Homo sapiens: one gene and its partner. The protein of the gene in region 1 purifies or fractionates together with the protein of each later gene. This does not show direct contact. Each region holds a gene or a part of one and is shown on either strand. Other genes may lie near its edges. The genes, in order: ITPKB and ADNP2.

Region 1 (3,808 bases):
CAGCAGCTGCAGAGCAAGTGGGGGCGGACCAGGCAGCCGTTTCTCCAAGGAGACTCAGTACCGGCTGGAACTGGGAAATCTTCCTTTTCCAGCTGGGGAGGCTTCCCTTGGCTCCTGGCAAGCTCTGAGGCTGCAGGCAGGGGGAATGTGCCTGACTCTTTCGTAGCCCAAGTCCTCCAATTCCTGAGTCCCTTGCAGGGGAGGATCTCAGCCCCTAAGCAGTGGCCACCATGGAACATGCCTCCTATGCCTGGGGTTTGTTCCTGGTGCTGAAGACTCCAGGGGGCTGCTCGGCTGGCCCGGCCAGCTGTCACTCTTTTCCAGCAGGCATTGAGGAACTCTGTGTACCTGTGTATGACGAGCTTCCCAAGGCAGCCCGGGGGTGAGACCCACAGAGCTGGCTTCTGGGGAAGATGGGGCACCCCCCAAGGCCAGCAAAGCTTGACATGGGTTTATAGGGCTCCATGGAGAGGGCACTGGGAGAGATATTTGTGGTTCTCTCTCTTACCCTGTCCTTTCAAAAGTCAAAGGTACTGACATTTATGCTGAGAAAGACGCCACAGCAGCCCTGCTCGCAGGAAGCTGCCTCTAGATGTCCGGCGTTTAGGGTAAAGCACATTCACGGGAGGGACCACTAGAGGCCGCATGGGTGTTCTGACACTGCCCTTCCCCACGCGGCGCTTAAAAATCTGGTCCTCTTTCTATTCCCAGATCGCCTATCGGGACCGGCTGAAGGCCATTCGAACCACTCTAGAAGTTTCTCCCTTCTTCAAGTGCCACGAGGTAGATACTGGGCTTTTGCCCTCTTGAGCAGAATGCTGCGCGTGCCAACAGGCCTTCTCCTTCTCCTTCCAGAAGCCCGGGGCATCGGGCATTTTCAGGGTGGTGCAGCCAGAGGCAGGCCATCAGGGACCAGACCCTCGCTGCACGGGGGAGCTGCGTCTCAATGCTTCCTGGGGTGACCACACGGGCTGTCCTGCCTGAGACCCCTGGCTATTGCCCCCTTTCTCCTCCCTTGTCCTTCCAGCTCCAGAGTCTTGTCCATTCTGGGCAGTGGTGGCAGGACTCATATCCCACACACCCGTGGTCTCAGGGCAGAAGCTCTCTGAGCTGCTAGAGTAGCCAGGCACCCGCCGACCGCCACCTACATCTTCAGATGAGACCCTGAGGAGGGCAGGCAGGTCTTCAGGTGCCACTCTCGGGCAGGGCTGGAATCTCCCAACTTTGCATACGTTGGTTGGCAGGGGCAGCAGGCAGCAGGTGGGGAACTGAGACACCTGAGAGAGGCTCTGGGAGGTGTCGGCAGGTTCCCTGGAGGGGTGTGAGACCCTGACATGGGGAGTCCAGGTCCCCAGCCACATGACACATTCACACACACATTCACAGATCCCACACTCATCAATCCTATACCACACACATTCACAGATCACACTCATAAACCCTACATGCACACACCTTCACAGATCACACTCAAACCCTACATGCACACACATTCACAAATCACACACATTCACACACATGCAGATCAATCACATGCATGCACACACATTCATACAGCACATTAACACAAGTCATACGTATACAAACACACACATGTATTCATATATCCACACACATTTTTGTGTGCACACCCACTCATACACAAACATGCATGCCTTTCCCAGTCTCACACACACACACACACACACACACACACACACACACACACAGAGCTGCAGTCCTGGGGCTGGCTAATCCCATGGGTGGGTGGGTGTGAAGCGGGATCCTGCGGCTCCCTGCAGCTGTGTAGGTAGTTCAGGAAAGCAGCCCCTCTCGTAGGGACTCTCTTGTGGAGGTCCTCTTGTATGGGGTCTTACATGGAGGTGGCCTCAGCCTCAGCCTATGCCCACAGAGAAGGCTGCGGAGCCAGCAGGAGGAACTCATAGGGTCAGCCCTGAGGCAGCCAGCAGGGCGGTGCATCTTTCTGCAAACTACACCACCAGGCCTCCTCAGGCAGATGGTCTACCTTGCTCTGCATGTCATTCCCTGCGGGGCGCCTGGAGAGGATGGCTGCGAGGAGGGGGTGGCACACCCAGAGAGGAGACTCAGGCTTTGCTGTGCCCCTAGCAGGGAGCTCGGTCCTTCTCGGAATGTTCTTTGCTCTCCTTGTCCCCCAGACCCTCAGCTCCTCCTGTGGCCTCTCCTTTCCACTTGATGAAGCATCCTCCTGCCACCTGCCAGAGCCCCCTTTGCCCCAGCTGCCTCTCTGGACGATGGGGGTGCTGCCTGGCTGCCTGACCCCAGGGGCCAAGCCTGGGAGAACTTAAGGCCACAGAGCTCTGTCTCAAAGCCGTTCCCACCCTTCTTCAACACTTCTGCTTTTATTTCTTGGAAAAGCATTTTGTTCTACACTTTTTGGGGTCTCCCTTAAGGTCTAGAAAGAGGCCAAATCAGCTTGGGTCTGTTGTTTTCCACCTGCGAAGAGGAAGCCCCTTTTTTGGGCTCAGCCTCGCCAGGGGCCCCACCTGCCCTGCACTGCTGGAAGCTGGAATGTCACCTGAGCCCTTTCTGTGCCCCCGGCCTTCCTCTGGCCCCACTGAGGTGATGCAGGGGTATGTGTGGCCATATTTGGGAAAGCGCCTCGCTCCCATGCAGAGGCTCTGAGCTCACCCAGGAGGGGCAGGCTCTTTGGTGCCCACTATCCCTGGGCCAGGCTGGGAAGGCCCTATAGGGTCTGCCCACGCTGAATCTGCAGGGGTTGTGCTGCTGGGGTGGGGGTGCTGTGTGCATTTGAAACAGGTTCTTCACCACCCCCGCCCCGGGATAGTTTGGACGCTCCTGGGCACCTTCCCCTTCACTGTGGTTCCCTGCAGAGTGTTTGGGAGGAGTCAGGTTCTAGGAGGCGGAAGGGCGAGGCCCCAGATTGGGTTGTGGTCTAGAAAGAGTGGAAAGTTTGCCCAGGTGCAGTGTGATTCATGCCCGTAATCTCAGCACTTTCCGAGGCCAAGGCAGGAGAATGGCTTGAGCTTAGGAGTTTGGGACCAGCCTGGGTAACATAGTGAAACCCTGTCTCTACAAAAATAAAAAACAAAAAGTTAGCCGGGCATCGTGGTGCATGCCTGTAGTCCCAACTACTCGGGAGGCTGTGGTGGGAGGATCGCTTGAGCCTAGGAGATCAAGGCTACAGTAAGCTGAGGTTGCACCACTGCACTCCAGCTGGGGCGACAGAGTAAGACCCTGTCTGGAAGGAAGGAAGGAAGGGAAGAAAGGAAGGAAAAGAAGGAAGGCAGGAAGGAAGGAAAGAAAGAGGGAGGGAAGGAGTGGAAAGTGTGCAGGCCAGAGTCAGGGGGTGAAGGGGTGCCTGCTGCTGCCCACACAGAAGGGTGGTCGCCGACCCTGGAACCCGATGCCCTCTGCCCAGGCATGGCCATTCTTGGGCCGGCTCTGCTGCCTGTCTGAAAATGGGGATTGGAATTGCAGGCACCCAACTGTCCGGCCTGAGCGAGCCTCCCCACCTGGTCACCCAGGCCCCGGGCCGCAGTGGGGAGGGCGAGGCCCGGGCTTCAGCTCACCCTTCACCCCCATGTTCTCCTCAGGTCATTGGCAGCTCCCTCCTCTTCATCCACGACAAGAAGGAACAGGCCAAAGTGTGGATGATCGACTTTGGGAAAACCACGCCCCTGCCTGAGGGCCAGACCCTGCAGCATGACGTCCCCTGGCAGGAGGGGAACCGGGAGGATGGCTACCTCTCGGGGCTCAATAACCTCGTCGACATCCTGACCGAGATGTCCCAGGATGCCCCACTCGCCTGAGCTGCCCACGCCCTCCC
Region 2 (4,608 bases), on another chromosome or scaffold:
AAATCTGTATTTTCACCATTAGAAAACAGCAGGCTAACCGGGGCGGCCAACTATTTCCACATCATGCACCAACCTATCAATTTCAATTCAAAATAAATCTCAATTCCTAATGTTTAGGGTAGGCATGGAACTACCATAAAATTCCACTGATATGCACAAGAAAATATTATTTCCCAAAAGGGTACATAAAGGACTTCTCTGGGGATTTTTTAGTATAATGATCTCGTAAGGATATTCTATTATAGAAAAAAAAATACATTCTAAAAGAAAATGTTGGCCGGGTGCAACGGCTCACACCTGTAATCCCAGCACTTTGGAAGGCTAAGGCGGGCAGATCACCTGAGGTCAGGAGTTGGAGACCAGCCTGACCAATATGGTGAAACCCTGTCTCTACTAAAAATTACCAAAAAATTGGCTGGGTCCTACTCGGGACGCTGAGGCAGGAGAATCGCTTGAACCCGGGAGACAGAGGTTGCAGTGAGCCGAGATCACACCACTGCACTCCAGCCTGGGCGACAGGGCAAAACTCCGTCTCAAAAAAAAAAAAAAAAAATGTCATTCAGGTAATACAGTAATAAACAATACTTTTTAAGCCACAGAACTTTTTTTTAGTTCCTGTGAAATCGCACAAAACGATGGTCACCAAAAAGGATTCTGGAGTTGTGTGCCCGGGTTTACATCAGCTCCACCATTTATGAGCTGTGTAATCTTCAGGAAATCACTTACTCTCTCCAGGCCTCAGCTGGCTCTTCTGTAAAACAGGGCGAGTATGACCTAATTCACAGAGTAGTTATGAGGATAAATGAGTTAATACATGCAAAACAGCACATAAGCACTGAGTTTGCTATTAATTAACTCCAAAAAACTAAATGAAATGTCCCAACTATTGGAATACAGGACTTTTTAAAAAGCAACTTTAAAAACACAGAATACTTGGATCATATATTCAGCAGATCTGGGTTCAAATCACTGGGAGATACCGGTTTCCACCTATGTAACACATTGCCCTAACAGGTCTAGGATAGCCAGAGGATGAAGGGCAGGGCAGAAACCAAGTTTGCAATATGCTATTGGTGAACTTATGAGGGCAATCATAAATTAACCAACAGCATATTGCAAACTTGGGTTCAAATTAAAAACGTGTCTCCCAAATCCCAGAATCTCTTCAGCTAAAAATCTTAGCATAGCTGTCATCTTCCCCCATAAACAGTGATCAACTCCTTTCAGACATGTCCTAACCCTCACTGTTCCTCCCCTCAACTAGAGGGCCGGTAGGACAACCTCTTGTCTCATCTTCACTCTTGTACTTCCTTTCTTAACACACATCTGTCACTTCATGTTTAAGGACGACGGGCTCAATGCTGTCTTCGCAGTGAAGTCCTAACTCCAACCGAAATTTAACCGAAATATTAATACACACTCATACATGGCCAACTCTCCAAGAACATCTTTAAATAAGTTACACATACATTACCGACTTCCAAATACAGCTGAACATGTACTTTACACAACTCTTTTTACATGTGGTCCTCTCTCCCACTAATGCTCCTCACCCCCAAAAATGGTACCCAGACTCCAAACCCCCTCTTTTGATAAAGGCTCTGCGTGGCAGATGCCCACAGTACTCTACAAACTGCTGCCCCACTTGCCAATCTGCATTGTCAGTTACCTGCTTACCAGTTTCTCCTCCCCCACCCCACTCCTCCACAGCCAGTATATTCCTCAAGATCCCAAGAGGCAGTGATTACCCGTGCAAATAGAGTAAGTTTTAAGCACGCAGGCAAGTCTTCTGTTCAAATAAACTACTTAAAATATCTAATTATTTCTCATTCTGCATCTGTACAGTATTTAAAAGGGCAGTTAAAATTAACATTCCAAAGTCAACTGTAGTAGAAATTTTGTAAACGGAATCTATTTCAATGCAACCAGCAACGGCAGATGAAAAGTAATGTTAAAGTCAACATCTGTATATCAATTATTGATATTCGCATCAAAAGCTCAACGATGAAGAAACAGGGCCCCGTTATCAGCTGTTCTTCAAACCTTTCTAGGGAAAAAAAAACCTGGGCAGATTTAGGTGTCACCGTCAGCTCCTGACCTACATCTGCCGTCACTCAAGGCTCCTCCAGAGAGAAGCTTCCAGGAGAACCCGGTCTCGGGGATGCGGCGGGCGGGCCAGCGGGCGGGGCGTTTCTGGAGTCCTTACAGGGGTCGCCACAGCTCCTTGCCCCCTCTCTTCTTCTCCATCCCCGTTCCCTCTCCCTCTACTCCTCGCTCCCTTCACCAGCCCCCCTCTCTCCCTCGGTCCCCGTCCTCGTCTTTCCCCTATTCCTACTCTCCCCTCAGGTCCCCATCCCCTTCTCCGCCCTCCCGGGGCGGCCCCCGCTCCCACGTGACCGGCGGCGGGCGGGGCGGGCCGCGGGCGCGTCGGGGGTCGACGGGCGCCGTTCGGGCCGCGAACCCGCGCCCTGAGAACGTCCCGGGATTCCCGAGGCGGCCACGGGCGGCGCGAGGGCAGGCGGCGGGCGTGGGTGTGGGCTGGGTACCGGCGGGGGCGGGGCTCGGAGGGGACCAGACTGGGGCGGGGGCCAGGACCGGGGCAGGGGGCGTCGCCGCGCGGGCCCGCGCCGGGCCGGGCCGTACCTACCGCTTGGCGCCCGAGGAGCACCGCGTCTCCGCTGCTGCCTCTCGCAGGGCTGCCGCGTCTTCCGCCGAGCGCAGCCGCGTCCCGTGGGGCCGCCTGCGCCCGCCCGCGCCTCCGCCCCGCGCGGCGGGACCCCCGCCTCAGCGCGCGCCCACCCCCAGCGCGACTGGTCCCCTCCTCCCGCGCAGCCAGAAAGAGAAAATGGCGCTCGATTGGCCTCAGGAAGTGACGTTGGCCCTCATTTGCATGTAGGCGCAGCCAGCCAATGAGAGCAGAGTGTGCTTGGGGGCCCCTGGCACTTCCCACAGGCCCCCCGGGGCCCCTGGCTAAAGATGGACTGGAGGCTCTGGGGTGGCAGTGGGGGGCCCCTGTTGGACCCCCTGACTCCCTTCTGTCCCAGGGAACTGCCCTGCCAGCTCCTTTCCACATCTGTGCAAACTCTCGTGAGAGTTTGAGTGGGCAATGACGTCACTAAAGGGGTGGGGAGAGTGTGTCATCAACCATGTGACTAATCACGTGGACTCACCACAGCTTTGACTTCATTTGCATGGAATGGGGTGGAGCTAGTGGCAGCTCCAGGAGTGGTGACCCCGCCCACATCTCAGAGCCAATGGGAGCCCAACTGTGATAATGCTGCCTTGCCATTGGAAGACAAAACTTTGGCTCCCAGAACTGGGACAAGTGTGCCATGATTGGCATATCCTGGTGAACCGACTAGCTGGGGTCTCCTGACTTCATCATTCCTGTGGGAAAGTGATCACACCTTCTCTTGAGAATTCTGATTTTTAGATCTACTACAAGTTGTGTGGGGAGAGGGTTAATTGCATACATTTGTATAAACTCTTAACCTAAAAGTTCATTTTTGCACAGGTGTTTATCAATTGTGTAGCAATAATAATTTATTCCACAAAATTAGTGGAAACATGGCGTAGGGCTTTCAAAATGGCTCTAGGTCTTCGTTCCGTGGAGTCCCCAGGCCTCTGGCGGACGCCCTCGTGCCCCAGAGCACGTGGGAGTAACCACGAGGGCAGCGCAGGCGCCTCCCCCAGTGCCCCTAACCTTAACCCTAATTCTGACCCTGCACCTGAACCTCACCTAGCACTAACCCTGACTCTGACCCTAACTCCCCTCCAGTGTTCCTTCCCCTGACCCTAACTCAGCCGCGCCCTCAGTGGCTGTTCCAGGCAGTTCCTTCTTGGCGAAGCCGTCTGCAGGACACGTGCCCCTTTCAGCACAAGGCCACGTCTCCTTCCAGAGCGCCGAGCCCCTGCAACCCGCCGCCAGCCTCCAGCCCTGAGGCCCACTCCAGCCACCGCGGGGCAGAGGCCGTGCCCAGGCTGGGCCTTCCGCCCACCGCCCTCTCCAGAGCCTCCTTGTCACCATCCGCTCGTCCATAATTTCAGCTTTTCCCTCTCAATGGGAGCCTTCTGCTCAGTTTAGCCCAGTGACTAAACACATAATAGGCACTAAATTAATGTCCATATTCGTTTTAAAACTGTGTTAAATGGTGGGCCGATATGACCTGACCAAAATTTGCTTTTTTCCTACATGAATACAAGTCATAATTGAAGTAGAGTTTGCCCTTTATGTTTGCTGACAAGTTAAGATTTTACTTTGAGTTACAGTGGTAAATGGGTGTGATGTCCCTATATATCTTCCTTGCAAAATTATGGGTGGGATGAAAAGTGTAGTTAAAGCCTGCAGTCTCCCATTGATCCTCTAGTGACCTCTCATTTTATCACATTTCTCAAAACAGCAGTCCCTGTGTCTGTCTCCTCAGCCCCCTGCACGCCTCTCGCCCCCACCCTCACCACTCTGCAGAAACGCCTTGGTCACCAGCGCCCTCCTAATTGCTGAGCCCAAAACAGATTTTAGGCCTCGTCTTTCTGTATCTATCTTCCATTTGTTACTACAGACCAATCCCCCTTTCCTACAGACCTCCCGCAACAAAGCCGCCCCACCAC

What was found.
Region 2: the proteins of ITPKB (region 1) and ADNP2 purify together in Homo sapiens (affinity purification with mass spectrometry; one large-scale study listed by BioGRID and IntAct). This does not show direct contact.

Annotation. Positions count from the first base shown.
Region 1 is NC_000001.11:226,634,654-226,638,461, reverse strand, and holds part of ITPKB (inositol-trisphosphate 3-kinase B), read left to right. Parts: intron 1-711; coding exon 712-783; intron 784-3,575; coding exon 3,576-3,791; 3' UTR 3,792-3,808. UniProt on the Homo sapiens protein: Catalyzes the phosphorylation of 1D-myo-inositol 1,4,5-trisphosphate (InsP3) into 1D-myo-inositol 1,3,4,5-tetrakisphosphate and participates to the regulation of calcium homeostasis.
Region 2 is NC_000018.10:80,107,512-80,112,119, reverse strand, and holds the start of ADNP2 (activity-dependent neuroprotector homeobox protein 2), read right to left. Parts: upstream 2,859-4,608; 5' UTR 2,648-2,858; intron 2,230-2,647; exon of another isoform or gene 2,099-2,229; intron 1-2,098. UniProt on the Homo sapiens protein: May be involved in transcriptional regulation. May play a role in neuronal function; perhaps involved in protection of brain tissues from oxidative stress. May be involved in erythroid differentiation.